Homo sapiens: one gene and its partners. The protein of the gene in region 6 purifies or fractionates together with the protein of the main gene of each other region. This does not show direct contact. Each region holds a gene or a part of one and is shown on either strand. Other genes may lie near its edges.

Evidence for each region.
Region 1: the proteins of LYZL6 (region 6) and CLGN purify together in Homo sapiens (affinity purification with mass spectrometry; one large-scale study listed by BioGRID and IntAct). This does not show direct contact.
Region 2: the proteins of LYZL6 (region 6) and FKBP14 purify together in Homo sapiens (affinity purification with mass spectrometry; one large-scale study listed by BioGRID and IntAct). This does not show direct contact.
Region 3: the proteins of LYZL6 (region 6) and TMEM132A purify together in Homo sapiens (affinity purification with mass spectrometry; one large-scale study listed by BioGRID and IntAct). This does not show direct contact.
Region 4: the proteins of LYZL6 (region 6) and LMF1 purify together in Homo sapiens (affinity purification with mass spectrometry; one large-scale study listed by BioGRID and IntAct). This does not show direct contact.
Region 5: the proteins of LYZL6 (region 6) and CTSF purify together in Homo sapiens (affinity purification with mass spectrometry; one large-scale study listed by BioGRID and IntAct). This does not show direct contact.
Region 7: the proteins of LYZL6 (region 6) and ATP1A3 purify together in Homo sapiens (affinity purification with mass spectrometry; one large-scale study listed by BioGRID and IntAct). This does not show direct contact.

What each region holds. Positions count from the first base shown.
Region 1 is NC_000004.12:140,420,554-140,424,870, reverse strand, and holds part of CLGN (calmegin precursor), read left to right. Parts: intron 1-4,317. UniProt on the Homo sapiens protein: Functions during spermatogenesis as a chaperone for a range of client proteins that are important for sperm adhesion onto the egg zona pellucida and for subsequent penetration of the zona pellucida.
Region 2 is NC_000007.14:30,016,385-30,020,701, reverse strand, and holds part of FKBP14 (peptidyl-prolyl cis-trans isomerase FKBP14 precursor), read left to right. Parts: intron 1-397; exon of another isoform or gene 398-489; intron 490-1,578; coding exon 1,579-1,706; intron 1,707-4,317. UniProt on the Homo sapiens protein: PPIase which accelerates the folding of proteins during protein synthesis. Has a preference for substrates containing 4-hydroxylproline modifications, including type III collagen. May also target type VI and type X collagens.
Region 3 is NC_000011.10:60,930,532-60,934,661, forward strand, and holds part of TMEM132A (transmembrane protein 132A isoform b precursor), read left to right. Parts: coding exon 1-128; intron 129-1,154; coding exon of another isoform or gene 1,155-1,157; coding exon 1,158-1,353; intron 1,354-1,452; coding exon 1,453-1,596; intron 1,597-3,010; coding exon 3,011-3,213; intron 3,214-3,956; coding exon 3,957-4,130. UniProt on the Homo sapiens protein: May play a role in embryonic and postnatal development of the brain. Increased resistance to cell death induced by serum starvation in cultured cells. Regulates cAMP-induced GFAP gene expression via STAT3 phosphorylation.
Region 4 is NC_000016.10:872,966-877,282, reverse strand, and holds part of LMF1 (lipase maturation factor 1), read left to right. Parts: intron 1-4,317. UniProt on the Homo sapiens protein: Involved in the maturation of specific proteins in the endoplasmic reticulum. Required for maturation and transport of active lipoprotein lipase (LPL) through the secretory pathway. Each LMF1 molecule chaperones 50 or more molecules of LPL.
Region 5 is NC_000011.10:66,562,964-66,566,423, forward strand, and holds the end of CTSF (cathepsin F precursor), read right to left. Parts: intron 3,442-3,460; coding exon 3,328-3,441; intron 3,205-3,327; coding exon 3,059-3,204; intron 2,965-3,058; coding exon 2,868-2,964; intron 2,789-2,867; coding exon 2,708-2,788; intron 2,044-2,707; coding exon 1,924-2,043; intron 1,844-1,923; coding exon 1,779-1,843; intron 1,686-1,778; coding exon 1,595-1,685; intron 1,184-1,594; coding exon 1,125-1,183; intron 1,045-1,124; coding exon 970-1,044; 3' UTR 501-969; downstream 1-500. Other genes in the region: ACTN3 (alpha-actinin-3), read left to right, coding at 72-230. UniProt on the Homo sapiens protein: Thiol protease which is believed to participate in intracellular degradation and turnover of proteins. Has also been implicated in tumor invasion and metastasis.
Region 6 is NC_000017.11:35,937,036-35,941,200, reverse strand, and holds part of LYZL6 (lysozyme-like protein 6 precursor), read left to right. Parts: intron 1-1,642; 5' UTR 1,643-1,844; coding exon 1,845-1,983; intron 1,984-3,284; coding exon 3,285-3,443; intron 3,444-4,165. UniProt on the Homo sapiens protein: May be involved sperm-egg plasma membrane adhesion and fusion during fertilization. Exhibits bacteriolytic activity in vitro against Micrococcus luteus and Staphylococcus aureus.
Region 7 is NC_000019.10:41,965,265-41,970,230, forward strand, and holds the end of ATP1A3 (sodium/potassium-transporting ATPase subunit alpha-3), read right to left. Parts: coding exon 4,921-4,966; intron 4,317-4,920; coding exon 4,171-4,316; intron 3,652-4,170; coding exon 3,521-3,651; intron 2,500-3,520; coding exon 2,398-2,499; intron 2,077-2,397; coding exon 1,985-2,076; intron 1,702-1,984; coding exon 1,673-1,701; 3' UTR 1,318-1,672; downstream 1-1,317. UniProt on the Homo sapiens protein: This is the catalytic component of the active enzyme, which catalyzes the hydrolysis of ATP coupled with the exchange of sodium and potassium ions across the plasma membrane.

The DNA of each region.
Region 1 (4,317 bases), on a different chromosome or scaffold from region 6:
GTTACTTGTGCTTCAATTTGTTATTGAACTACCACAGAAGCAGTGCAGAGAACATACATGAGATCAAAGATACGTGTTGGTGCAGAAGGATGTAGTTCTTCAGTGCCTCCCTTCTTATGAAGGCACAACTGATATTTAGTGATCTCAGCAAGCCTCATGGAGTGAGGAATACATAAGAAGCTTGGAACCCTGGGCATGCTACCTTTTAATTTATAAGGAGGGAAGAGGGTGACATTAGCACTAAATGTTCTACCCTATACCATATAAACAAATTCTTGCTGTACTAAAATTATATAACTTAAACAACCATACAGATCAATAAAGAAATAGATAACACCACAAGCCAACTAAACATAATAAACATATGGACAACACTGTACCCAACAATAGCAGAACACACATTTTTCTTAACTGCACATAGAACATTCTCCAGGATAGACCATATTAGACCACAAAACAAGTCTTAATGAATTTTAAAAGATTGAAATCATACAAAGTAAGTTTTCTGAACACAAAGGAAAGGAACTAGAAATCAATAGTAGAAGGAAAACAAGAAAAATTCACAAATATGTGGAAATTAAACAGCACACTCTTGAACAATGAGCCAAATAAGTCTCAAGAAAAGTTAGAAAAACATCTTGAGACAAATGAAAAGGAGAACAAAAGATACCAAAACTTATGGGATACAGTGAAAGCAGTGTTAAAAGGGAAATTTATAGCTTTAAGCACTTACATGAAAAACAAAAGATCTCAAGTTAACAACCTAACTTACACCTTGAGGAACTAGAAAAAGAGCAAATGAAACCCAAAAGTTAGAAGAAAGAGGGAAATAATAAAGATTAGAGCAGAGAGAAACAAAATAGAAAATAGAAAAACAAGAGAGAAAACAAGTGAAATCAAGAGTTAATTCTTCGAAAAGGTCAACAAAAAAATTAACAAACCTTTAGTTAGATTAAGAAAAATGAGAGAAGACTCAAATAACTAAAATTGGTAATGAAAGGACATTACATCTGATTCTACAGAAATAAGAGGGATTATAAGAGAATACGCTGAAGGATTGTATGGCAACAAATTGGATAACCTAGATTAAATGGATACATTCTTAGAAACACACACTCTATCAAGATTAATCATGAAGAAGTAGAAAATCTGAACAGACCTGTAACTGGTAAGGAGATTGAATCAGTAAACAAAAACTTCCCAGCAGATAAAAGCCCAGGACTAGGTGGCTTCACTGGTGAGTTCTACCAAACATTGAAAGAATTAACACCAGTCCTCCTCAAATTCTTCCGAAATATTGAAGAGGAGTAAACACTTCCAGATTCATTCTATGAAGCCAGCATAACCCTGTTATCAAAGCCAAAGACACTACAAGAAAACTACAGAGCAATATTCCAGATGATTATTGATGCAGAAATTCTTAACAAAATACTTGACAACAAAATTCAGCTGCATATTAAAAGAGTTATATACTATGACCATGTTGGATTTATTCCTAAAATTCAAGGATGATTCAACATAAGAAAATCAGTGTACCATGCCACATTTACAATGTAGGGAGGGGAGAACACATGATCATCTTTATTCATGCAGAAAAAGCATTTGACATGATTCAACACTCTTTCATAATAAAAAACACTCAGTACACTAGGAATAGAAGGAAACCACCTCAACATAGTAAAGGTCATATATGAAAAGCCCACAGTTAACATCAGACTAAATGGTGAAAGACTGAAAGCTTTTCCTTTAAGATCTAGAATAAGACAAGGATGCCTGCTTTTTCCACTTCTCCCGAGCCAGAGAAATTAGGGAAGAAAAAGAAAGAAAAAAGACATTCAAATTGAAAAGGAAGAAGTAAAATTATCTCAGCAGATAACATGATCTTATATGTATGTACAAAACCCTAAAGATTTCACGAACACAATACAAAAGTCTGTTAGAAATAATAAATGAAGGCCAGGCATGGTGGCTCATGCCTGTAGTCCCAGCAATTTTGGAGGCCAAGGTAGCCAGATCAGTTGAGTCTAGGAGTTTAAGACCAGCCTGCGCAACATGGCAAAAACCATCTCTACAGAAAAATACAGAACATTAGCTGGGCATGGTGATGCTTGCCTGTAGTCCCAGCTACTCGAGAGGCTGAAGTGGAGGATCACCTGAGTCCAGGAGTTCAAGGCTGCAATGGGCCATGATGGTGCCACTGCACTCCAGCCTGGGTAACAGAGTGAGATCCCATCTCAAAAAACAAACAAATGAATTCACTAAAGTTGCAGGGTAAAAAAACTAGCACACAAAAATTAGTTGCACTTCTGTATACTAACAATGAACAGGAAATTAAGAAAACAATTCCATTTATAACAACATAAAAAAGAATAAAATACTTAGGAATAAATCAAGGAAGTAAAATACTTGTACATGAAAAATTATGAAATGCTGCTGAAAGAAATTAAGAAACAAATATTAATCAATGGAAAGACATTGTGTTCATTGGGATTGGAAGACTTAATAAGATGGAAACACAACCCAAAGTAATCTACAGATTCAGTGCAATCCCTGTCATAATCCTAATAGCACTTTTTGCAAGAATAGTAAAATTCATATAGAATCTCAAGGGACCCCAAATAGCCAGAACAATCTTGGGAAAGAATAAGTTTGGAAATCTCACATCTCTGTTTCAAAACTTATTACAAAGCTATAGTAATCAAATCAGTGTGAGACTGGCATAAAGACAGACATATATATCAATGGGATACAATAAAGAGCCTAGTAATAAATTCCCACATATATGTTCAAATTTTTTTTATAAAAGTGCCAAGACCATTTTGTGAGAAAGGACAGTCTTCTCATGAGATGATATTGGGGAAACTGGCTATCCACATGCAAAAGAATGAGGTTGTAACCTTACCTTAAATCATAGACAAAAATTAACTCGAAATGGATTGAAGACTTAAACATAAGAAAACTATAAAACTGTTAAAAGAAAACATGGAAAGCTTCATGACATTGAATTTGCCAGTAATTTTTATATGACACCAAAAGCACAGACAACAAAAGAAAAAATATATAAATTGGAAAACTCAAAATTAAAAAGTTCTGTGCATCAAAGAACACAACAAAATGAAAAACCTATGCAATGGGAGAAAATATTTGCCAATCATATATTTGATAAGGGGTCAGTATCCAGAATTTGTAGGAACTCCTACAACTCAAAACAAAAACAAAACCTGATTTTTTAAATAGGCAAAGGACTTGAATAGACATGTTTCCCTTGAAGATGTATAAATAGCCAACAAGCACATGAAAAGATACTCAGTATCACTAATCATCAGGGAAATGCAAATCAAACCACAATATGATACTACGCCATATTAGGACCTATTACAATGACTACTATTTAAAAAAACATAATTTTGAACAAATGTTGGCAAGGATGTGTAGAAATTGGAACCCTTGTGCCTTGTTGGTGGGAAGGTAAAATGGTAAAGCCACTGTGGAAAACAGTATGAGGATTCAAAAAAAAATAGAATTATCATATGACCAAGCAATTCAACTTATGGGTATATACTCAAAAGAATTGAAAACAAGGTCTCGAAGAGTTATTTGTATACCCATATTCATTGTAGGATTATTCACAACAGCCAACAGGTGGAAGCAACCCAAGTGTCCACTGACAGATGAATGTATAAACAAAATGTGGTGTATACACACAATGGAATACTGTCCAGCTTTAAAAAGGAAGGAAATTTGATACATGCTACAACATGGATGAAGCTTCAGGGCATTATGCTAAGTAAAATAAGCCAGTTACAGAAAGACCAATACTGTATGATTCCACTTATATGCAGTACCTAGAGTAGTCAAAATCATAGAGATAGATATTAGAAAGATGGTTTCCAGGGGCTGGAGGGAAGGGTAGTGGGGAGTTGTTAAAAGTGTATAGCGTTTTAGTTTTAGAGCATGAAGAAAGTTTTGGAAATTAGTTGTACAACAATGAGAATGTTTTACCACGTGATTTAAAACAATTTTAAATGCATAAATTAACTACTTCATTTTCTTGTAGTATTACCCCAGCATCTGACCTCTCAGAGTTTCAGTACAGACTTGTCAATAGCATACCTCTCTCTAAGAAATGAGATGTCACAAACCTCATAGTTTTGTTTGGAACTTAATAACATGTTGGCACCATTGTGAGACAGATTTCAAGACTGTGAACTTCAGTATCTAATTCTCAATTGTCAGCTGGTGCAGCACTGAAGAATGATAGGATACTGCAGCATTACGCAGAAAGTATTAAGTCTGTATTTCTGATTTTTTTTTTTA
Region 2 (4,317 bases), on a different chromosome or scaffold from region 6:
CAGTCTGAAAATATTAAGGTATTTTGAGAATGAGAGACAGATTGCATTCATATAACTTTTATTATGATATGTTGTTGTAATTGTTCTATTTTATTATTTTTAATCTGTTACTATGACTATTTTATAAATTAAACTTTATCACAGATATGCATGTATAGGAAAAAGCATTGTATGTATGGGGTTTGGTACTATCCATGGTTTCAGGCATCTAATGGGATTCTTGGGACATATCCCAGTGGGGACTACTGTACGTTGTATTAGTCCATTACTCTTTCTCATACTATATTTAACTCAAGTTTACTTCACAATAAGTAGAGATCTAAATTTGAGTCATTTCCTTCAAACTGAATGCCATGAAACTAATTTTTCTAATCTGTATTTAACACTAATTTTGTAGTCTTTTAGTACATGCTTGCATGCCTCTTTTGGAAAGATACCAGTTTTATCAACAACCTAGCGCATGTCACATCTCTGTCTAGATCTGAAATGGTAAGCTTCAGCACACTTTATAAGTCTTCTCTTTGGAATTTATGAATGTTCTTTCATGGAAATATGTGGGATGGGGGGAGGATGACTAAGAAATATTTAACATGTTTACACAGACCTGTATGTTAAATATAGTTATAAGGAAACAAGTTTGAGAAAAACAATTGTCCATACTCCACAGATGGGTGTGTTTGTTTGTTTGTTTGTTTGTTTCAGGTTCCTGGGATTTTAACAAAGCTCTTTTCACTTTTAAAGATTTTTAATTTCCCTTCTCAGAAATTCATTTTAATTTCTCCCCTCCCATGAAATGTCTTCAACATATATATAATGTTCTATATCAGAGGTAGTGTTTCCTAACTTTCTGAAATTGTTAAACCTTCCTGCATTATTTTTAAAGCCTGTGAGAAAATTATACCTCAATAACATGTATTGAGAGTTTACTATTTGTCAAGTTTAATGCTAAGTATTTTGCATGGATTTTTCTCCCTTTATCCTCCCAACAGACTCCTGAGGAGGAAATTTATTATCTGCATTTTATAGATGAGGAAATTGAGGCTTAGAGATGGGCAAATGTAAACTTCAGCCTCAGACAGTGTGACACCAGAGCTTACTCAATTATATGGGTAGAAATGCCTTCTAGTGGTAGAAATGGCAATACTGTATGTATTTCTAGGTCAGGACTTTCTGACCAAAAAGTTAGTTTATTACTTTTAATATACTTAACTCCGAATTATCTAAAACCCTTCAAGTCCTTCTTGACATATAATATGTAATATATTAATTATATTAGAAATGTAATACCTAAGCCATTAGGTACATCTCTATGTATGTATATGCATTGTGTGTATGTGTATTTACATTTTAATTGCTAAGCCAAAGATAGAATGCTTTTGCTCTGCTAGTGTATATTATTTCTTCTTTTACTCTATTCTATTCGAGTAAAATATAATATACATAATTTTCATCATATATGACAATCTTAGGAAGGCTCTTTAATTCAGTTAAAAAAAATACTTTGTCCATTACCATAAATTTTCTATTATTAAAACTTTTGGCTCTTTTAAAACTTTCTGCCTTCTTTCCTCACGTCAGGTAAAATTCCCCCAGAAAGTACACTGATATTTAATATTGATCTCCTGGAGATTCGAAATGGACCAAGATCCCATGAATCATTCCAAGAAATGGATCTTAATGATGACTGGAAACTCTCTAAAGATGAGGTGACCTTTCCTTCTTCCTACTCCTCTTTCTACTTTTCTTTGGTTGTTTGGGGTTTTGTTTTGTTTTGTTTTTGTAACTCACTTTTTAAATGAATATGTGTATATTTCAAATCTACTTTTATTTAGGTAACATTTATTTATAAGTTTTCTTAAAATACTGATGCTTTGAAAGTGGACTTTTTCATAGTGAATCACTGTTTTGGAGAGAAATATATTAAGACTTAAAAAGCACCATTCAATCTTTTGCTTTTTTCTTCCCAATGCTTAGGGTTCACTGTATCTTATGCTTACCCTTGGGTCTTTGAAAGAACAATTTTGCCAAGACAGTTTCCATCTGGAGTTACTGTATAAGAAGCTAGCTGTCCTGAGAAATATCTCATGTGGACAGTTTCTGTTAAAACTGTAGACTGGCTGTTAAATACATCTTGTAGTGTTTTCCTGGCAATTAACAGCAAGCAACTTACATGCTCTGTTTTGTTCAGGTTGCCCCAGAGAAAAGAGACCCCAGCCTGGGTTTTACACAGCAGGGCTCCAGCCCCATCAAAATCTGAGCCTTTGGGTAAAGAGAAAGGAAGAAGAGGCTTCTCCTTATAATTCGGCCATTGCTACACATACCTGTCTTAGTCTGGCTGCTGCGGGGAAAGAAGTGGAGGGAGATATTTATTCCTGTTTTTTATCTACTCACACTCCATTCTGTCCTGACTGGTCAGATATCAAGTCCCTTTCTATGCTTTGATCAAATTCATTCTAATGGCCAGGAAATGATTAAGTCTTGAATAAGCCAAATTGTTACGAACCAGGGGTTCATGATCCACAGCCACTAAATTTATAACACCTCATAGTATTACCAGTCACATGCCTTTTTCTTCCATCCAAGATAAATTTTAATTCCCTTTCATTAAATAATTTTGAATATATAACACAGTCACATGGTTCAAAACAAAAATCTATTTATTTATTTATTTATTTATTTATTTATTTATTTATTTATTTATTTCCTGAGAGGGAGTCTTGCTCTGTTGCCCAGCCTGGAGTGCAGTGGCAAAATCTCGGCTCACTGCAACCTCTGCCTCCTGGGTTCAAGCAATTCTGCCTCAGCCTCCCAAGTAGCTGCACCATCATGCCTGGCTGATTTTTGTATTTTTAGTAGAGATGGGGTTTCACCATATTGGCCAGGCTGGTCTCAAACTCCTGACCTCGTGATCTGCCCACCTCGGCCTTCCAAAGTGCTGGGATTACAGACGTGAACCACTGTGCCCAGCAGAAAGATATTTATTTAAAAGTCTTAGCTGGGTGAGGTGGCTCACACTTGTAATCCTACCACTTTGGAAGGCTGAGGCAGGAAGATTGCTTGAGGCTGAGACTTCAAGACCAACCTGGCCAACATAGGAAGACTTTATCTCTATTATTTACTGTTTTTTTTTTTTTTAGACGGAATCTCACTCTGTTGCCAGGCTGGATTGCAGTGGTGCGATCTCAGCTCACTGCAGCCTCTGTGTCCCGGGTTCAAGCGATTCTCCTGCCTCGGCCTGCCAGGTAGCTGGGACTACAGGTGCACGCCACCATACCCAGCTAATTGTCGTATTTTTAATAGAGACAGGGTTTCACCATGTTGGCCAGGATGGTTTCAAGCTCCTGACTTTGTGATCCGCCTGCCTTGGCCTCCCAAAGTGCTGGGATTACAGGTGTGAGCTACCGCATCCGGCCTATTATTTACATATTTTTAAAAGTCTTTCTCCTACCTACATCCTCTTCTATTCTATTATCCCCACATCCAGTTTTATTAATTACTTTTTTCTTTCTTTCTGTTTTTTTTTTTGTAGAGATGAGGTCTCGCTATGTACAAGCATGCACCATTGCACCCGGCTTAGTTTTATTAGTTTCTAATATATCCTTTCAGTGTTTCTTTCTGCAAATCCAAATACATAGTCTTATTTCCCCCTTTCTTACACAAAAAGAAGCAAACTATACATGCTGTTTTGTCGTTTTGCTTTATTCACACAATATATCCTAGAAATACATTCTACATTAATCCATAGAGTTTAATGGATTAATGGATCTCTCCCCCACCCCTTTTTTTAACAACTGCATTAAATCACTTTAACTTAAAAATAAATATATACTATATGTGTACTTCTTGAAAGCTGGGGGAGAGAGGATTTGAAATTGCTGGTCTAAACAGAAGGAAGAGAGGTGATATAATTAAAACTGAAAATATAGGCTGATTTTCATTGTGGTGAATCTTGTGGGAAATTGAAAACAATATTTATATTTTTAAATATCTGAATGAAATGAAAATGGAGTCCGGGCATGGTGGCTCACACCTGTAATCCCAGCACTTTGGGAGGCCAAGGCAGGCAAATCTTCTGAGGTCAGGAGTTCGAGGCCAGCCTGGCCAACTTGGTGAAACCCTGTCTCTACTAAAAATACAAAAATTAGCCAGGCATGGTGGCAGGTGCCTGTAATCCCAGCTACTAGGGAGTCTGAGGCAGGTGAATCGCTTGAACCTGGGAGTTGGAAGTTGTAGTGGGCCGAGATCGTGCCACTATACTCCAGCCTGCGTGACAGAGCAAGACTCTATTTCAAAAAAAAAAGAAAAACAAAAAAACAA
Region 3 (4,130 bases), on a different chromosome or scaffold from region 6:
CATGTGACAGCCGCCCGCCCAGCCCAGCCCACACTCTGGACTGCCAAGCTGGACCGCTTCAAGGGCTCCAGGCACCACACCACCCTCATCACCTGCCACCGTGCTGGGCTCACAGAGCCAGATTCCAGGTGGGCAGTTTCCCTCCACCCAGGGGGCAAAGGAGGGAGGGCTGGTTATAGAGTGCAGTTGAGCAGATTTGGAGGCTGCCATGCTGCCTCTAGATCCCCAGGTGAGCAGACCCAAGGACAGATTTTTTCAAGGAAGCAGCACAAAGCAGGCATAATCCATTCCTTCATTCATTCATTCGGCCACTATCTTCCCAGCCCCAGCCATGTGCCAGGCATAGCAAGTGTCTGTGAGTCTTATTCTAAGAGATGCCAACCAATCCTGTGCCCCAGGTAGAGCCCTCATAGCCACTACTCCATCCCCCTGCTTCCACCAAATGATCCTTTCTCTGGGCCGTTCACATTCCCCCAAAAAGCCCAGCTGCAGTTCTGCGGTTGTGAACTCTTCTTATTCATGCCCTGAGCCTGGGTCAAGGCCATGGACTCAGTAGCCCCAGTTCGAATTCTGGTTCTGATGCTTTTGGGATGGGCAAAACCTTGGGCAAGCCAGTTAACATTCCCCTACCCAAGCCTCAGTTTCTTCACTTGTGAAATAGGAATAATAATGCATCCCTTAGCATTTTTGAAAATAAAATACAGTGCTACATATCAGGCACCCAGGACGGTTCCCAGCACATAGGTTTTTGTTTGATCAAAGGAAGCTTATCATTCAGAGGGTCAAGTGTCTGGTCCTGGGACCTGGAAGTGAATCTCCCGCATGCCACCTCAGTGGCTGTGGAAAGCGGAAGTCTGGGGGAAGCGGGCCCGGGCAGGCAGGGGAGTGAGCCACCTTGCCAGGTGGGAGGTGGTTAAATGGCTTCATGGATCTTAGAGAGGCCAAGAGTGGGTCAGAGTTTGGGGTCTAGAGCGAGGATGCTTGGGTTTAGATCCCAGCCCCGCTACTTTTTGCTGTGTGGTCTTAAGTGAGCTATGTAACCTCTGTGCCTCAGTTTCCTCCTGTGTAAAATGGGGATAATCATGAATGCAGGAAGTGCTGAGGCCATGCCTGGCAGCTAGCAAGCATTTGGCTTCTCTGTCTCCTTTGGCCAGCAGTCCCCTTGAACTGTCTGAGTTCCTATGGGTGGACTTTGTGGTGGAGAATAGCACTGGTGGGGGCGTAGCGGTCACTCGCCCCGTCACGTGGCAGCTGGAGTACCCAGGCCAGGCCCCTGAAGCAGAGAAGGACAAAATGGTGTGGGAAATCCTGGTGTCTGAGCGGGACATCAGAGCCCTTATCCCACTGGCCAAGGTAAGGAGACCTCCATCTCTGCCTGGGAAGGCTGGAGGCCAAGTCCCAGGAGCCCCATGAGCTGAGGGGCCTGGGGCTGAGCCCCTCCTCCACCCCCAGGCTGAGGAGCTGGTGAATACAGCACCACTGACTGGAGTGCCCCAGCATGTCCCCGTGCGCCTTGTCACTGTGGACGGCGGGGGGGCCTTGGTGGAGGTGACAGAGCATGTCGGCTGCGAGTCTGCCAACACACAGGTCCTGCAGGTGAGTGGCAGGTGCCCAGCTCATGTGAGTCTGCATTTGTGTGGGCACAGTTACGCACACACACCTTTCCTCCTTCCTCATGTGGGTCCCCAAGAGAACAGCTTCTTCTTGAGACGAGAAACCTCATGGGAGGAACCACAGCTTCAACTTCTTTTGTTCCAGCCACCTCTCTCCCGAGTCAAGTAACCCTAACAGCCCCCCGACCTTAGACACTTTCACGCTCATTATTGCACTGGCAAGTGCGCTGGCCTGAGAGAGTCGAGAGCACATACTCTGGGATCAGAAAGTTTTAGTTTGAAACACATCTTTGTTGTCAACCAGCTTTGTGATCATGGGCTGGTCTCTTAACCTCTCTGAGCCTCGTTACCTAAACTTTAAAATGAGAACATATCTTCGGGTTGTTGTAAGAATTAAAAGCACTTTAAGACAGTATTTAGCAGATAGCAGGGGCTGAAACAATGGCAGTTATTGCTGTTATAATATGATGTAATAATTATACAATGGTAAAAATTATTATTATTATTATTACCGGTGATTGTGAAGTGAAATAAAAGGGAGGGTGGTAGAGCAACTTCCTCTATCTTGAAGTTCTAAGAGGGGAAGCATGGAGTCTGCATGTATGCAAATCCCAGCCACCTGAAGGGGGAAGGTGCCTTTCCCCACTTGTGGTCCTTTGCTCAAATGTGTGTGGTTCCTGCTGGAGGGCCTTGGTGGGAGATCTGCTTTGTCCCACCTCTGCCTACCTGGCTGTAGCTGGTTGCCAGGTGGCTCCAAGAGCAATGTCAAAGGCCAGCATGAATAAGGAGCCAAAGTTTTGGGTTCACACCCCTGCTCTGCCAGGAGGAAGACTGGTATGCAATGGCCAGTTCCCCTGACTGAGCCCCAGGGAACCTCAAGGAATGGCCCCTACAGTAAAATCTTAAACAAAGAACAGGGGCTTAACCAACAATCCTGCTGCAACATGCATTCCAGTGACACACAGAGCTGAACTCAGTGGGAGCCCGTCCTACGGCCTGAGGTCAGGGCTGCTCTCTTCTGGCCCATGCCTTTTTTTTTTTTTTAATCTATTTATTTTGAAACAGAGTCTCACTCTGTCCCCAGGCTGGAGTGCAATGGTACAGTCCGGCTCACTGCAGTCTCAGCTACCCAGGCTCAAGGGATCCTCCCACCTCAGCCTCCCCAGTAGCTAGGACTACAGGCATGTGCCACCACACCCGGCTGATTTATTGTATTTTTTGTAGAGAGGGAGTTTTGCCATGTTGCCCAGGCTGGTCTCAAACTCCTGGACTCAAGCGATCCACCCACCTCGGCCTCTCAGAGTGCTGGGACTACAGGCATGAGCCACCCACCCGGCCCAGCCTCACACCTGTCTTTAGTGGCTTAGCCCGCCCACCTGCCCTCTGCCCTTCCATAGGTGTCTGAGGCCTGTGATGCCGTGTTCGTGGCTGGCAAGGAGAGCCGGGGCGCCCGGGGGGTGCGAGTGGACTTCTGGTGGCGCCGGCTCCGCGCCTCGCTGCGGCTGACCGTGTGGGCCCCCCTGCTACCGCTGCGTATCGAGCTCACCGACACCACCCTCGAGCAGGTCCGCGGCTGGAGGGTACCTGGCCCTGCTGAAGGGTGAGTGGAGGCCTGAGGAAGCTGGCAGGCCTTGGCGAGTCACACTGGGACGGAGAGGGCGCAGGGGACACAGCCATGGGCCCAAGTCGGGGTCAGAAAAACTGCCCTGTTGCTTGCAGTTCCTTCTGCCCACCTCCACCCTGGGCCGCCCAGCCAATGATCGCTTTCTGTGAAATTGCTGACTTCCGCATCCCTCTCCTCCTTCCCTGCCTCACTTCTCCCGTAGCACCCTCCACTTCCTAATCTACGTCAGTACTGGTTAATGTTGCCTGTCCATCCTTTCCACGCTCCTCCCCCGAGAATGTCAGCCCCTTGAAGCTGCGGTCTGTCTATGCTGGTCGTACCCTCAGAGCCTAAGATGACACAGAGCTCAGGAAATGAACACCCTCGGAGGGGGCTCCCCAAAACCCAGGGAGAGGTGGCCCACGCCTCTGGAATCTAGCTTCCAGGCCCTTCAGAGAGTGAGCGCCCCCAGGGTCCCCGTAAGAGAGCGTCTCCCCTGCGGTCCACTTGGGAGCAAGAGCGGTGATCGAGGCACAGCGCCAGTCGGGAGTGGGCTGGGGCGGCTCGCCTGCAGGTGGAAGGGCCTGACCCCAAGAGGGGCGGATGTCTGCGTTTGAGAAACAGGAGCTGCTGGTGATTAGGAGCCGCCGGGGACGAGCTGCGGGTCTCCAGCAGCTGGGCCCTGGGCAGGCTGGGGCCGCTCAGCGCTGACGGCCAGTCCCGGCCTCCCCGCCCTGCAGGCCTGCGGAACCCGCTGCAGAGGCGTCGGATGAGGCCGAGCGGCGCGCCCGTGGCTGCCACCTGCAGTACCAGCGGGCCGGTGTGCGCTTCCTCGCCCCCTTCGCGGCCCACCCGCTGGACGGCGGCCGCCGCCTCACGCACCTGCTTGGCCCCGACTGGCTGCTAGACGTGTC
Region 4 (4,317 bases), on a different chromosome or scaffold from region 6:
TTCATCTGTTTTCAAATCTTTTGGCAAAAAAAGTCATAGTATTATCTTAGTTTTATAGCCTCTCAAGTAGCCGGGACTACAGGTGCCACCACGCCGAGCTATTTTTCATTTTTTGTAGAGCTGGGGGTCTCGCTATGTTGCCCAGTCTGGTTTTGAACTCCAGGGCTCGAGCACTCCTCCTGCCTGACCTCCTAAAGTGCCGTGACTGCAGGTGTGCGCCCGGCCTCAAGGCCTGTGTCCTCACCGACACGCATCTCCTGAGACAGCGGGGAGCAAGGTCATGCTTAGGGTCAGCGTGGCCGTCTTTCTCTTTTAAGTAACAGGCCCGTATATCTCAACTGACATATTTGGACGTATTTCCACATCTTTGTGTTTTTCTCTTTGTTCTTTGTATCTTTCTCTCTCGTTTTTTTCTGTTATTTTCCCTCCTCTAATGGATAAGGAAGATCCTCTGTTTCCTCAGTGGTTATCAATCAATCAGCCATGTTAACTTACTGAAGGTCTCAGTTTGGGCAGCATCTTTGCCACCATGACCCCCCGAGGTCCTCAGCCCGCCCAGCCCGCCTCTGTCCAAGGTCCTCAGCCCACCCAGCCTGCCTCTGTCCGCCCCAAGCCACTTGCGTCCTTTGCTCCAGTGTTTCAGCTCTGTTTCGTTTTATTAATTGACTTATTTTAGAACACTTTTAGATTTTCGGAAAAACTGTGCAGAGACTACAAAGGTTCCCTTATCCCCCCCTCCCAGTTTCCCTGCGCTCAGCGTCTTGCATCGGCCAGGACCTTGTATAGTTGATAGGCAGGACTGATAAACTGTTGCCAACTAAAGTCCCGGCTGACAGGAGAGCCATTCGCAGTGTTGCTCATTCTGTGAGCTCCGACAAACGGACGACGACACGTGTCCCCATCACAGCTTCATGCAGAGTCGCTTGTGGCCCTGGAAGTTCTCTGTGCCCCGCCGACCCTCCGTCTCCACGGTACTGCCTCTTCCGGACATCCTAGAGTGGGAAGCATTGTGCAGCCTTTGCGGACTGGCTTCCTGCCCTCCGCGGCCGCGCGTGGGCTCCTGCACCTCCTGCAGGCTCCACTGCTTGTTTCTCTTCGGTTCCGAGACGCCCGTGGTCCGCACGTGCCCCGGTTTGTTTCTCCACTCAGCCTCTGAAGGGCAACAGACGGAGCCCCGGGCACATGTGCTTCCCACAGGGCGCACAAGGAGGGTTGTGCTGAGCACAGGCGTGGGGCCAGGGCCGGCTGTGCCAGCCCCGGGTCCCACTGCCACCCAGGGAGGGGTGTCCAGCCTGAATGGAGGGGTGTGTTCCAGGATTCCTGACCTGGGTGGGGCCACACACACGGGTGACTCCTGAGCCGTCTTCAGCCATGCGGTCCTGGGGTCCCAGCTGCTGGAGGAGGGCCGGGCTGGAGACTCCCGGGAGTCACCCCGACCCCACACACCTCCTGCGTGGGCTGTGCTGCCCCAGGGTCCCGCCTGCCCCTGCCGGTGGAGAACACAGAGATGCCCACGCCAGGCTCGGGTCTGGTTCCGAGGCCGGTCCAAGGGCACCCCTGGACACACAGCCCAGGCAGGGGTGTTGGTCTGCTTGGCTCCGTGGCTGCCTGGCAGTGGGGAGTGCTCAGGATCCCACCTCCCGCTTCCATGGCCCGTGTACCCTGTAGCGTCCCTCCCTCAGGCTGTGCTGGCCAGTTCCACCACTGCCCCTCTCCCGATAAGCTGATGCTGCCTGGGAGAAGCTCTCATGAAAAGCAAGGTGCTGAGTTACTTAAGTAAATGGAGAAAGTGGGAGTCACTTGAGGGCTGAGCTACCGTGACATGGAATGGGGAGGTGACCCTTGAACCAGAGGCCTCAAAAACGTCCTTGTTTATTCAGAACGCAGGAACCTGGCCAGGGGGTTAGATGAGAATTGGACCAACGGGCCCTGGTGCAGGCAGACAGGGACCCTCCCAAGCATGACGGCCAGGCTGCGGGTTCCCTTAGTGCCGGTGCTGGCCCCGTTTTGGAGTCCGCTGCCTGGTGGGGTGAGTGGCGGTGGACAGTGGGGATGCTGAAAGGGGAGGGGACAGAGCTGGGCCTCACTGCACCTGGGACTGTGAGCACCACCCTCAAAGACCCGGCACAGGCAGCGCCTCCCTTCCAGGCCTCGGAGGTCAGGCTGCGTCATCCTCTCCAGCCCCACACTGTGTCCAGGACGAGGTGGAAGCACCAGGGTCGTGGCTGTGCTCTGCGGCGTGGCCTGGCGTCCCCCCTTGGAAGACAAGATGGTCGGCCGGCAGTCCCGGCTGCGATGTATCCTGCCCCCTCACAGGCAGTGTGGGGTCTTGAACTAGGGCTTTTGCCCCCACAGGCGTACAGGGCAGAGGGTGTCTGGGGGATGATATGGTGTGGGGCTGAGAGTGACCCGCGCCCTCTAACATTGTAGTGTCCTGGCTGGGGCTGCGTACTCCCCTGTGCCGCGCTGTGACAGCCGAGTGCCCTGAGACTTCTGAGCGCCGCCTGCCTGGAGCCTGTCCTGGTTCCGTGTGTTCCCATCTGAGCGCCGCCTCCCCGGATCCCGTCCTGGTTCCGTGTGTTCCCATCTGAGCACCGTCCCCCGGAGCCTGTCCTGGTTCCCGTGATCCTTCCGTTGGGGAGTTGCGGCATGAGCAGCCTCCCTCCTCCCACGCAGTTTACACAGCTGTTCCGGAGGGTTCCGCGGGGCCCTGGGGCCGCTGCCTGCCTGGAGAGGTGCACAAGAGCAGTGACCGCAGAGCCCGGCCGCCCAGCCAGCACCCCACGGGAGCCATCAGCCTCCACTAGGGCACTGGTGACAGGGAGACGCAGCCCCGGACTGCCAGGGCGGGAGGGGCAGGGGGTGAGCTCAGGTCTGGAACCTCTGAGGCGCCTGCCCACAGCGGGCTGTCCGGCCCCACCCCACCCCGCCCTGCCCAAAGGGCTCCTTGCCCTGTGGTGGCTGCACCCCACGCCCGCTCAAGACAGAGGCCCGGAGGCCCTGCCAGCCCCGCACACACAGGCCGGCTGTCCTGAGGCTCTGTCCCAGAGCTGGGCTCACCGGCCCTTAGCTGTGTTTCGGTTGTGATGAAACAACACAGATAACGCAAAGTAAGTTCATGCTTTTGAAGTGAACTCGGGGGCCTCCAGCACGTTCACAGCGTGATGCAACCGCCGCCTCCGCCTGGTTCCAGAACTTCCCATACCCCCCCCACACCCGGCAAAGGAGACCCTCACACCCGCCGCCGGGCCTCCACCAGCCACTGGGAGCTTCATCTCTGGATTCCCGACTCGGACGTTCCATGCAACTGGCATCCTACAATGTGCGGCCTCCGTCCAGCCTCCCTCCCTGAGCACCATGACCCTGGGTCTGTCCCTTTCGGGGCACGTGCTGAACTCCGATTCCTTTGCAAGGCTGCATGCGTTTCCGTGGGTCAGGCATAGGGCTCTGGGTCACTGCTGTCGTGGATGCTGATGGACTGGTGTTAGACCTCAGCAGATTCTCTACCTCCCACCATGTTCTTCTGCCCTCATCTCCTCTCTGTGACACTGAAGAGAGACCTGGGTTCACGCCCACCAGAGTGCCCACCTGGAACACAATGCATTTCCTCAGCAGAGGGTCCCCGCGAGCGCAGGGGTGTCCTCGGCGGAGGGTCCCCGCGAACAGGCATGTCCTCGGCGGAGGGTCCCTGTGAGCGCGGGCGTGTCCTCGGCAGAGGGTCCCCACAAGCCACCTGTTCTCCGTGGCAGCTGACAGGCAGGAGGCTGCATCCAAAGATGCCACTCTTCCTTCTTGGGGCCATGCGCCGTTGGCCTCGGAACACCTGCTGCTCCGTCTCTTGGGCCCAGGATTCCATCACCTCAAGCTCCTCTTCCTGTGCCGGCCTTGGGGACCCCCTCGGGCCTCGCCTCCGCTCCCAGCCACCGGCCGGGTCATCTGTGGGCCGCACAGCCTTGTGAGGACTCCGCCGGCGGGGGCGAGCACAGATGGGCAGTGAGAAGACTGATTTCCCTCTGAGGAGATGGCTCAGTGATGCTAGAAGAAAAACAAGGAAGGCGAGGTCCCCCAGGAGCGCTCAGGCCGTGCACTCTACGCGGAACTGCGTTTTCATAACAAAACAGCCGACCAGATGGAGGGCGAGAGATGCACCAGAGCAGCTGAACGGGGCGCAGCTGGGGATGCCTCTGCATGGAGCAGGGCCCCGAGCCCCGAAGCTTTCTTAGAAACAGGATCTGATGCCCAGATCTGTGCTCTCTGGAGCCCTAGTTCCCTGAGGCTAGAGTTCCCCACTGAGCCCACAGCAGGATGACCCAAGGG
Region 5 (3,460 bases), on a different chromosome or scaffold from region 6:
AGGCGGTGGAGGGGCTGGTGGGCTAGGGCAGGGCACGGGACCTGTGGGTCCTCAACGCCTCTTCTCCCCAGAACTACATCACCCCCGAGGAGCTGCGGCGCGAGCTCCCTGCCAAGCAGGCCGAGTACTGCATCCGCCGTATGGTGCCCTACAAGGGATCCGGGGCCCCGGCTGGAGCCCTGGACTACGTGGCCTTCTCCAGTGCCCTCTATGGGGAGAGCGACCTTTGACCCCAACCACTGAGGTTCTCTATGCAAGATGGAGAGAGGATGCACCCTGTGGCTGATCCCATCCGTCCCTCGGAGCAAGGGCCTAAGAGAAAAGCCAGCCAAGTGCTTCTGAATAAAGATCCCTCTCTGGGTCTCTCCCCATCTCCTTTTAGTTCCTGAAGCAGAAGCTGGCCCCTCAGGCTCCTGGGCAGGACCAGCTATCCCACCTTGACCCGCCAGGAGTCCCTGCCATCTCTCCTCACCCCCGGGGACTGAGCATTTATACCACACTCGGGACAAGGACACCTCTTTATTGCTGTTAGAAAAGGGTGGTTACAAGTTTCCTGGACATGGAGAGGGACACTATCCCTAAATCCAAGGGAACCAGAAAATTTATAGTATCAAACAGAGGAAAGCGGGGGCAGAACAGAGCTGGGCTTAAGATCAGAAAATTTTCTTCCTGCTCATTACCCAAGCCCAGAGTTCTTGCCCCAGCTTCAACTGCCAAGATACCACCCTTCACCCCGACATCCTCCTAAGCTACCACAATTCAACAAAGGTGCAGGTGCAGAACTTCAGGGTGGGAATGGGGTGCAGGGAAGCAGGGGCTGTGCCCCAGCCCAGTGCCCTCTGCTCACCCTGAGGTACCCAGTGCCTTTCCCTCTGCCAGCTGTACCTCCCGGGGAGGGGCCTGGACACATGTCAGGCTGGGGCAGCAGCCACTCTGATCAGCACCAGGTCCCGAGCTGGGGGCCCCTCTTCAGTCCACCACCGCCGAGCTGGCCATGGTGTTCACGCCACAGGCCCCGGACCCACGATGCAAGTAGTAGTAACCCTGGGGGAGAGGGGGAGCTGGTGAGGGCACCAGGGTAGGATGGCGGCTGGAGGGCCAGGGGCCAAGCCAGCAAGACTCACCTTCTCACCCCAGTCAGTGCCCCAGCTGTTCTTGATGGCCCAAAAGGGAACGTCAGAGCCTGGGGTGCAGTGCAGAGCGCAAGGATCAGGGTCCTTAATTCTCCAGGCAGAGCCTTAATCACTTTGCACCCTTCAAATACTTGCACTGGGCCTACTGTGTGACAGGGACTAGGAAAAGAGCAGAAAGCGAGGGGCCCACCTACCAGCCTCAGGGAGAAGCCCTGGGGCAGGGAGGAAGCACGCACCCACCCGCCTATTGCAGGTTATTAGGCCATCAATATTTACCCTCCCACAGCTCAGCTTCCCTGCCATAGAGAGGACAGATGATGCCCAGCTGGTCATGGCCCAGGCAGTGGGTAAGGACAGGGTTCCTAGGCATTCCCCCTATTTCCCCTCTAGAGGACCTGAGATGCTGTGATCCCACCCCTGCCTGTGGCCTGGCTGGATGCAGGACAGGCAGCGGAACTCACGGTTGCCGTAGCCCACAAGCAACACCGCATGGTCAATGAGCCAAGGGCTGCAGAGGGGCCGGAGAGGGCGGGAGATCCCGTGGCGGTAAAACTGGAGGTGGAGAAGGAGTAGGGGATCGACTCCAAGAAGAGGTCGGGGAGGTCAACAAGAGATGGGGCAGGGGCAGTGGGGCTAGGGCCTCACCTGCATGCCAAAGGCATTGATGGCCACGGAGATTGGGCCTCTCTTGGCCAGCCAGGCTGCCAGCTCTGAGATGGGAAGGGGTGGCATCAGTAGGCACCCAGGCCCCGGCCCCACCTGACCTCACCTCACCCTGCCCCTCACTCACTCTGCTCGTTCTGGCTCAGCTCCACGGAGTCATTGATGTAGACCTTGGCCTTCTCTGCTGAGAAGTTGCAGGACTGCATGTGACCCTGGTAGCTGTAGTCATCCTCTGTCTCCAGCCCTCCTGGGGAACGGTGGGGGTGAGTAGAGAAGGGCAGGCTCCCATTTGCCATTCACAGCCAGAAATGAACTAAGCCCTCTACGCGAGGTTTCACATTCCTCGTCCACCCCAGGCCACAGGCCATCCCCTCTGAAGAATGTCTTCATTCTAGAAATGACACATCTGAGGCTGGGAGAGATGGGGAGGAGGGACCAGTAGCCAGCAAGAAAAGTGGCAGAGACAGAACTCAACTCCAACTTCTGACTCCTCACCAAGAGCTCATCCCAGCAGTCTTTCACCCAGGCTGGAGTACAGTGGCACAAACATGCCTCACTACAGCCTCAACCTCCTGGGCTCAAGCGATCCTCCTGCCTCAGCCCCCCAAGTAGCTGAGACTACAGATGCAAGCCACCATGCCTGGCTAATGTCTTTAATTTTTTGTAGAGATGGGGTCTTGCTATGTTGCCCAACCTGGTCCTGAACTTCTGGCCTTAAGTGATCTTCCCAAGTTGGCCTCCCAAAGTGTTGGAATTACAGGCATGAGCCACCACGCCTGGCTGGGTCAGCATTAAGACCTGGACCCAGTTCTGTGTAACTCTCATGCTCATGTCTCCCCCCCATTATGAAGTAACTTCTTGTACAGGGAGAAGTGGCTCCGGTTGCCCCTCCTGACCCCATTAATGCATACCCAAATTCTTTATGGCCGAGTAGGCATTGGAGGGCAAGCCGCCCATGCAGGCCTTGTCCATCTTGTCACAGTCCAAGAGCTCTAGGAGACAGAAGGCTGGTCCCAAGAAGCCCTCCTGAGGGGCTAGGCTGGGGACAGAGGAGTAGAGCGAGATGCTCACCCTGTTCAGAGAGGGAGAGCAGGGTCCCCTGGTTGAGAAACCACTGGCCCTCCACATTGCCTGTGACTGAGAAGGCCCAGCAGGAGCCACACATGCCCTACAAGAGATGGGTGGAGTTGGAGTCAGAGCCGGGCCCCTTCGTCAGCCCCAGTGCAGTGCCCATGTCCCACCCTCACTTCCAGGGGTCCAACCTGGTCTTTGACTTTTGTGACAGCCCCCTTACTCCTCCAGTCCCATTCAGGTGGGGCGAGGTCACCCACAGACTTGGCTTGCTTCATCTTGTTGCCAGGCTCTTTCCTCAGGAGAGTATTCAGGTAGATAGTGCGGAACTCCTCCTCTGCGGGCAAAGGTGGGCAGGGCATGGGGAGGAAGAGTGTTCTAAGCCAGACCTGACCAGAGGCCTTGCGAGCAAGGTCCTGTCTCTTCCTGGATCCATGAGGACTGTGGCCACTATCCCTACCTGTGAGATCACTGAACTTGGTGACTCCATACTGAGCTGTGCCACGGTCCAGGGCCTGGATCTTCTGTGCTCGCACCATGTTATTGACAAAGACGGACAGGCGCCACCGGGCTTCTGAGGACCAAGGAGCAGA
Region 6 (4,165 bases):
ATACCCACTAGGATACCTTTTGTCAAGAAGACAGATAATAACAAGTGTTGGTGAGGATGTAGAGAAATTGGAACCTTCATACACTGCTGATGGGAATGCAAAATGGTGCAGCCACTTTGGAAATCTGGTAGGCCTCATAAGCTTAAGCCTAGGGTTACCCCATGACCCAGCAACTCTACTCCAAAGAAATAAAAACATATATCCACACAAAAACTAGTATGTTAATGTTCATAGTAGGATTATTCATGATAGCCAAAAATAGAAACAACCCAAATGTCCATCAACTAATGAATGGATAGACGAAGTATGGTGTATTCATACAATGAAATATTATTCAACCATAGAAAGGAATGAAGTATCATTACATGCTCCAACCTGAATGAAACTTCAAAACATTATGCTAAGTGAAAGAAGCCAGATACAAAATGCCATATTTTCTGTAACTCCGTGTGTATGAAATGTCCAGAAGAGGCAAATCCATAGAGACAGAAAGTAGATTAGTGGTTGCCAGGGGTTGGGAGGTGGGGGATGGGCAGTGACTGCTAAATGGGTGCAGGGTTTTGTTTTGGATTGATGAAAATATTCTAAAATCAAGTGAGGTAGTAGTTGTACAACTCTGCAAACATACTGAAAACCACTGAATTGTACACTTTAACTGAATTAATTGTATGATACATGAATTATATCTCAATAATGCTGTTACCAAAAAACATCGTTTCAGATCTGGCCAGTCGGTGCCCCTTTGAGCTAGCTCTTGTGTCCATTTGACATGCCCCAATACATATTTCGAGCACTTTTTAAATTTCTTGTACAGCAAGATAATCCAGACATCTCATAACCCTTTCCTGCTCCAGCCTGGGAATCAGCCATATTTCCTAGAGTCCTGGTTCCCTTTTGTGTGGAATGTGAACCAAGATCTGGGCATTATTTCATTTAATCATCAAAACAACCCTTTTAGGTAGGTATTAGCATATCTTCATTTTACAAATGAGGCCCAGAAAGGTTGAGTATGTTGCCCAAAGTCACATAGCACCCCAGGATTTGAAAGCAGGCAGTGTGAATCTAGGGCCCTTGCTATTCAACACACACACACGCGCACACACACATACACAATGTGAAAGTGAAGGTTACGTCTACAGCCAGCCCACCAAGAATTGTACCAGGCAGGGTATGCCCTTGGGAAAAATCATGTGTCATGTGTCTGGGGGAGTGGGGTTGTGGGGAGATTAGCACCCAGTGTCCTGGCCCTCTTTCTAAAAGCACATGCTCAGATACACACACACATATGCTGGTGAAGATAGTCTTCAGTAATCTCCTTTGCCAACCTCACTCCCCATCCCAATACCCAAATACTACCCATAGCTGGGTGCCCATATAAGAGGACCTATGGATGAAATGAGATTGGCCAGGTGTGGTGGCTCACACCTGTAATCCCAGCACTTTGGGAGGCTGAGATGGGAGGATCACTTGAGGCCAGGAGTTCAAGACCAGCCTGGTCAACAGAGTGAGACCCCCATCTCTAAAAAATAAAAAAATAAAAAACAAACAACAACAAAGAAAGATTGGCCTTGGTTTTTGAATGTTGAAGCTCAGAAGTGGGTATATGGAGGTTCATGATACTATTCTCTTTCCTTTTTTAAAGGTTTAATTTTCCATGATAAATAAAAATCTATAAAATAATAAACAAGAGAAAAGAGATTGGAAACAGCCAGGTTGGAGCAGTGAGTGAGTAAGGAAACCTGGCTGCCCTCTCCAGATTCCCCAGGCTCTCAGAGAAGATCAGCAGAAAGTCTGCAAGACCCTAAGAACCATCAGCCCTCAGCTGCACCTCCTCCCCTCCAAGGATGACAAAGGCGCTACTCATCTATTTGGTCAGCAGCTTTCTTGCCCTAAATCAGGCCAGCCTCATCAGTCGCTGTGACTTGGCCCAGGTGCTGCAGCTGGAGGACTTGGATGGGTTTGAGGGTTACTCCCTGAGTGACTGTGAGTACCATCCGCCCCTCCCCAGCCATTTCTCCTCTGCTAGTCATGTCCTATATGGCCAGCTTCTTTCTCTCCTGTTCATCTTTCAAAGCCAAGTTCAAAAAGCAGCCCCCTTCAAAAAAGCCTTTCCCAACACGCTGTATTCACTCAAGTTATTGTCTGAGCACTTATTATGTACCAACAACTGTTTTAGGCACTGGGGCTGTAGAGATAAACAAATTCCCTTCCCTTATAATGTTCACATCCTAGGGGAAGAGAGCAGCAACAAACACACTCATAACGTACTGCCTGGTGGTGACCAATGCTATGAAGAAGAATAAAGCAGGGGGAGCAATGGTGAATTCTTTAGATGGGGAAGTCAGGGAAGGCCTCTCTGAGGAGATGACATTAAGCAGCACTGAATTAAATGAAGGACCTGGTCACCCAAATGTCTGGGGGAAGAACACTCTAGGCAGAGGGGACAGCTAGTACAAAGGCTTTCTCCTCCTGCATGGAAGGGATATCTCCCTTTTGCCCAGGAGTTGTGTGCACCTGTCTTGCAACACTTTTGTCCTTTAATCTTGCTTTGTGGGTTTTTTAGGTACCTTTTTTTTTTTTTTTTAGACAGAGTCTCGCTCTGTCACCCAGGCTGGAGTGTAGTGGCGCGATCTTGGCTCACTGCAAGCTCTGCCTCCTGGGTTCACACCATTCTCCTGCCTCAGCCTCCCCAGTAGCTGGAACTACAGGCACCCACCACCATGCCCAGCTAATTTTTGTATTTTTAGTAGAGACAGGGTTTCACCGTGTTAGCCAGGATGGTCTCGATCTCCTGACCTCGTGATCCGCCCGCCTCAGCCTCCCAAAGTGCTGGGATTACAGGCATAAGCCACCGCGCCCGGCATACATATTTTTAAGCTTGTACATATTTTTAAGCTTGTACATACAAGCTTATTACAAGGCCTGTATTACAAGCTTAGGTACATATTTTTAAGCTTGTAATACAGGCCCCTTGAAGGCAGCATCTGTGTTTGACCCAACTGAAATGTCCCTCACTAGGCTTTGCACAGTTCCTGGCACACAGTAGGTGCTCAGTAAGTGCAAAACACATGAATAGATGGACAGATGAGTAATTGTACTTATGAGTGGGTGGATGGACCACAGGATAAGAGGGCAAGTCAATGGAGATTTCAAGCCCTCTAGTCCTATCTTGCCTCCCAGGCCTTGTTCCTTTTGTCTGAAACCTTGCCTCCCTTTCTCCTCCATCTCCCTTCTCACTCAGCTTGGTCCCCTCTAAATCCTGACCTTCTTCTCCCTACTCTAAGGGCTGTGCCTGGCTTTTGTGGAAAGCAAGTTCAACATATCAAAGATAAATGAAAATGCAGACGGAAGCTTTGACTATGGCCTCTTCCAGATCAACAGCCACTACTGGTGCAACGATTATAAGAGTTACTCGGAAAACCTTTGCCACGTAGACTGTCAAGGTCTGGCCAGGGCCCCAGGGTGGGAGAGATGAGAGCAGCAACCAGGCTCTGCTCACAGAACTTCTCTTCCCACCCACAGCCTGGGAATGGCCCCAGAAATATGGTTCAAAAAATCAGGGAATCCCTTTACTGAGCAGAGGGCTGGAGTAGTGTCCCTAATGCCCATCCAGTTAGGAGATTCTATAGAGTCCCTGAGTAGGATCCAGGAAGGCTCCGTATACAGCTGGTAGTAGTAGAACAGTTGCAGCAGCCAATGTTTATTGAGAGAATATTATACACTAAGTGCTTTACATACTTGGCTTATTTCATCCAACTTTCATGCAGTAGAAACCATTTATGATCCCTACTTTACAAAACAGCAAACTGAGGCTCAAAAAGAGAACCAGCATTGAATGCCAGACTAATGGCCTCACAGGCTCTTAACCATTCCGGAGTACCCTCTTTAGCTAATGATCTGACCAAAGACCAAGTGCAAACTCCCTACCTCAGAGCTGATCCAGGAGGCTCGACAGGGCCCATGACTCTGCCCCTCACCTCTGCCTTCGCACACTGACCGATGTCCCTCGGCTCCTCGCCTGAAGACCCCCGCTCACTAGGCGGGACATACCTCTGTGGTGTTTTGGCATTTCCTCTCCCTGGAAACCTCCCACAAACTTTGAGTGAACCACTATCTACCCTGGTTAGGAAGAATAGTAGTGAACAGGCCCAAATCTCAGGCCTCT
Region 7 (4,966 bases), on a different chromosome or scaffold from region 6:
ACAACTGATGTGTGGTAACAGAAACCAGATCAGCTCTTGCCTCTGGAGGGGAGGCGACTGGAGGGGCTCCAGTGAACTTTCTGGGTGGAGGGAAAGGTTCTATGCCTTGATGTGGGTGGTAGCTTTGCAGATGCAACTTTTTTTTTTTTTTTGAGACGGGTTCTCGCTGTTGCCCAGGCTGGAGTGCAGTGGCATGATCTCGGATTACTGCAACCTCTGCCTCCCGGGTTCAAGCAATTCTCCTGCTTCAGCCTCCTGAGTAGCTGGGATTACAGGCATGCACCACCATGCCCAGCTAAGTTTTTTGTTTTTTTGTTTTTTTGTTTTTGAGACGGAGTCTCGCTTTGTCACCCAGGCTGGAGTGCAGTAGTGGGATCTTGGCTCACTGCAAGCTCCGCCTCCCAGGTTCATGCCATTCTCCTGCCTCAGCCTCCCAAGTAGCTGGGATTACAGATGAGTGCCGCCACGCCAGGCTAATTTTTTTTTAATTTTTAGTGGAGACGGGGTTTCACCATGTTAGCCAGGATAGTCTCGATCTCCTGGCCTTGTGATCTGCCCGCCTCGGCCTTCCAAAGTGCTGGGATTACAGGTGTGAGCCACTGCGCCCAGTTTTTTTTTTTTTTTTTTTTTGTATTTTTCGTAGAGATGGGGTTTCGCCATGTTGGCCAGGCTGGTCTCGTACTCCTGACCTCAAGTGACCCGCCCGCCTGGGCCTCCCAAAGTGCTGGGATTACAGGCGGGAGCCACCGCGCTTGGCCTGCAGATGCAATTTTTAAAATCATTGAGCTATACCCTTAAGATGCGTGCACTTCACTGTATGAAAGTTTATCTCAATAAAAAGAGAGAATAGCGTAGTGACCTAGAACTTTGGACAGCCTTGGTTCAAATCCCAGATTTGTCTCTTCTTAGCTGTGTGCAAATCACTTCTTCTCTCTGTGCACATTTAATGCACACTTAGAAGTGGGCAGAGCACATAGCAGGCACTCAGTGAATCACTGTCATCACCATCATCATCGTCATTGTGTCCCCTGGGTCCTACTCCTATAGGAGAGGCTCCCAGTCACCATCCCACGTCTGCTTCCCTCCCTCTCCCCTGTTCTGATTCCACAATGCCATCGCCTGGTGAATTCAAGCTGCTCTGACTTTCGTGGAGTTGAAAACTCCGTGATTAGATGGCTCTGAGATTCCGTGACTTCCAAGCCAGTGCCAGGCTAAGTTCCTGCAGTTTCGAGAGTCGCCTGGCAGCGCGCCCCAACAGAGGGGATGCTGTCCCAGCCGCAGTCCCCGTCTGGAAAGCAGGCACAACACACACACCGCTTCTCTCTCCCCACTGATATATTTGATAATTGTCCAGAACCAGAGATGGCATCAGCCGGGGGGCTGAAGGGGAGTAAAAAAGAGCCCAGGGAGGTGGCTGGGGCGGGAGGAATGGATAGAGGGGTGAGGAGAGGGAGAGAAACTGACACAGAAAAGAGAGAGGAGAGAGGTTTGGGGCAGGGGAGAGAAGCCAGCCAGAGTGGGGGCGGCAGGAGATAGTGGAGGGGGTGGGGGCCAAGGTGGGGCCACAGGAAGAGAGGGCTCCTCCCCCCAGAATACAAAATTGGGGGGACTGACAGGGGCGGTCCTGGGCCTGGGGGACGGGGAAGAGATGGGCGATGTGGTGGGGCTGAGGTCAGTAGTAGGTTTCCTTCTCCACCCAACCTGGAGAGACAAAGAAGGAAAGAAAGAGACAGAGTAAGAGATGGAGAGAGACAGGCAAGGCGAGCCGCCCAGCAGAGAGAGGGACAGAGAGGGAGAGAGACAAGGAAACCACACAGACAGAGACCCGTGAGAAGACAGAGTGGGTGCCCGGAGAGATGGGAAGAGAGAGAAGAGTGGGAACCAGGTGGCAGAGCCATCCAGCAGGGCGAGGGGAGCCTGGGACCAGCTGCCTGAGACCCTGCTGCCCCCCGCCCCCCTCGGCTGCCTTGCCGAGCTCCCTCACCCCCTGGGTTCCTGCGCAGGATGAGTTTGCGGATTTCGTCGTAGACGAAGATGAGGAAACTGTAGGGGAAGGCACAGAACCACCAGCTGGGCCTGCAGAGGGGAGAGCAGGAGGGCTTGAGTGCGGGGCCCTAACGAGAGGCAGAGTTTCAGGGGACTGGAGGGGACGCAGAGGGGCAGTCTCCCAGGATCCTTCGTGCTCACAGGTGGAGGGTGCCCTGGGCGGGGCTGGGGCCTGGGGTCTTCGGAGTAATCCGTGGTGGGAGCAGCCTATGGGGGAGGCTCGGGGGCATCAGAATGGGGACTGCAGTGGGGACACCAGGGGAGGTGGGGCCTGAGGTTCAGGCTGAGTCTAAGGGAAGGCTCCATGGCAGGCGCTGGTGTGGGCAGGGCTGGGGGCAGCGGGGCACTCACTTGAGAGGGTACATGCGCAGGGCCACGTCCATGCCGGGGCAGTAGGACAGGAAGGCAGCCAGGGCCGTCTCCTCAAACAGCCCGAAGATCAGGATCTTGTTCCTGGAGGCACAGAAGGGCAGGGCTGGGCCCAGAGAGCACCCACCCTGCACCTGCCACCCCGCAGAGACAGGGGGAGGCACAGTGCAGACACCCAGAGACAGCAGCACAGACACAGAGACAGAGAGGCAGAGACATAGGGAGAGACAGAGATGGGGAGACATGCCCCGACAGAGAGAGACAAAGATAGAGGCAGAGCGATGGTGACACAGAAAGAGACAAAAGACAGGGACAGACACAGAGACAGGGACAGACACAGAGACAGACAGGGACAGACAGAGAGACAGACACAGGGACAGACACAGAGACAGGGACAGAAACAGACACAGAGACAGGGACAGACACAGAGAGGCACTGGTATAAAAAGAAAAGGCCAGGGGCACCTCCACCACACACACAGAGGCTGAGAGAGAATCTAGGACACACAGGACCCCTTGAGAGAAAATCAGTGCAGTGGCAAAACCCAAAATGGGCTGGGCATGGTGGCTCACACCTGTAATCCTAGCACTCTGGGAGGCTGAGGCAGGAAGATTGCCTGAGCTCAGGAGTTTGAGACCAGCCTGGGCAACATGGTGAAACTCTACTAAAAATACGAAAAATTAGCCGAGCCTGGTGGTGCGTACCTGTAATCCCAGCTACTTGGGAGGCTGAGGCATGAGAATCGCTTGAACCCGGGAGGCGGAGGTTGCAGTGAGCCAAGATTGTGCCACTGCACTCCAGCCTGGGCAACAGAGCAAGACTCTGTCTCTAAATAAATAAATAAAAATTAGCCATATATGATGGTGCACACCTGTAGTCTCAGCTACTCAGGAGGCTGAGGTGGGTGGGTCACTTGAGCCCAGGAGGTCGAGGCTGCAGTGAGCTATGATTACACCACTGAACTCCAGTCTGGGTGACAGAGTGAGACCCTGCCTCAACAAAACAACAAAAAACCAAAGCAAGGACACAAGAGGAAGTACACAGACAGACAGACACTCGGACAGGACAGATGGCTGTCCAGTCACCATGTGCCCCCGGCCCTCACTTCATGCCCTGCTGGAAGACCGAGTTCCTCCGGGTCTTGCAGATGATCAGATCGGCCCACTGGACGACAACGATGCTCACAAAGAAGGCCGTGTGGCAGGTGAACTCCACCACCTTCCTCTGCTCGTATGTCTGCAGGAGCGGTGACCAGGGCACGGGACGTCAGTTAGTGGCACTGCAGCCCTAGCCGCCACCCCGACGTTCCGGTGCTCTTTGCCCCGCCCCATCCTGCATGGGGTCCTCAGGGCCTCAGGTGTGTCTTCCTTCTGCGGGCTCATAGTCCCGAGGGAGGAGTCAGGAGACGTACAAGGAAGAAGAAAGGTTAATGGTGATCTCACCATCCACCAGGGGCCAGGGAGGAGGATAAGGACCCTGTGGGCCTCCCAAGGAGGACAGACAGCAACTGGGCTTTGAAGGGACAGACAGAGGTGGGGAAGAAGGCCTGGCAGGGCAGAGAGCTCCAGCAGTGGGACACAAGGCTCCAGATGGGCTGGGCCAAGGGCATCCAGGAAGCCCCAGGTGCCCAGCAAAGGCCTTGATGCTGCCATGGGAGACTGAGGGGGCCATCGTAGGAAGTGGCCATGCATGGCTGGAACAGCTCACCCCGGGGATCTTACGGTGGGCAGAGACACAGCACCCTGCCCTACTCACCCACTGCTGCCCGTAACTGTCTTCCAGGTCATTGACGGTGCGGTCATCCCAGTTCAGCCGGATGCCCACCAGGTTGCCGGGCAAGAAGCCATTTTCTGCCAGGATCACAAAGTAAGAGAAGAAGCCACCGAGAGCCTGGATCATTCCTGGAAGGAGGAGAGAGGAAGCCGAGGAGAGGCTCAGATTGGGGCCAGCAGCCAACCCAGGGCACCTCAGAGGGCCCGGAGGCCTCCTTGGAGAGGGGAGTATGCCCTCCTGGCCCTGTTATCTGGACATTGGTTCCCAGAGGGTGACCTGAGGTCTCACTTGGTGGTGAGGCCCTGAGATGGGTGGGCCACCTGGGACAGGGGCTTTGGAGAGAGGGCTCTCCCAGAGGGATAACCTGGAGCCCCTCTCTCACCTGACCTAGGCCACCTAAACATCATGAATTCTTGGGGGATCCCCAGCTTGAGCTCCCTACGCAGGAATGACCTCCCTGGGCCTGGAACCACTGCCATGAAGTCTCTGCTTGCTGGGACAGCCCCCAAGGGTGGCTGCTCCACTCCTCTGGGGATCCGCACACATCAACAGCAGAGAGGAGGAGGTGGAGAAGGATGGGGTGCAGACCCCCCCCACAGATAGCTCACTGGTTGGTCCTGCCCACGTCTGCTCCCCTGAGTCAATGCCAGGGTCCCAAGCACCCACGGTGGGCCAGGCACTGCTCTAGGCCCGGCACTGGGTGGTAAGGAGATGGAGTCCCCGGTGCCTCACCAATCTGCCCGTAGGCCATGCTGATGAGTCTCTCATTGACCAATTT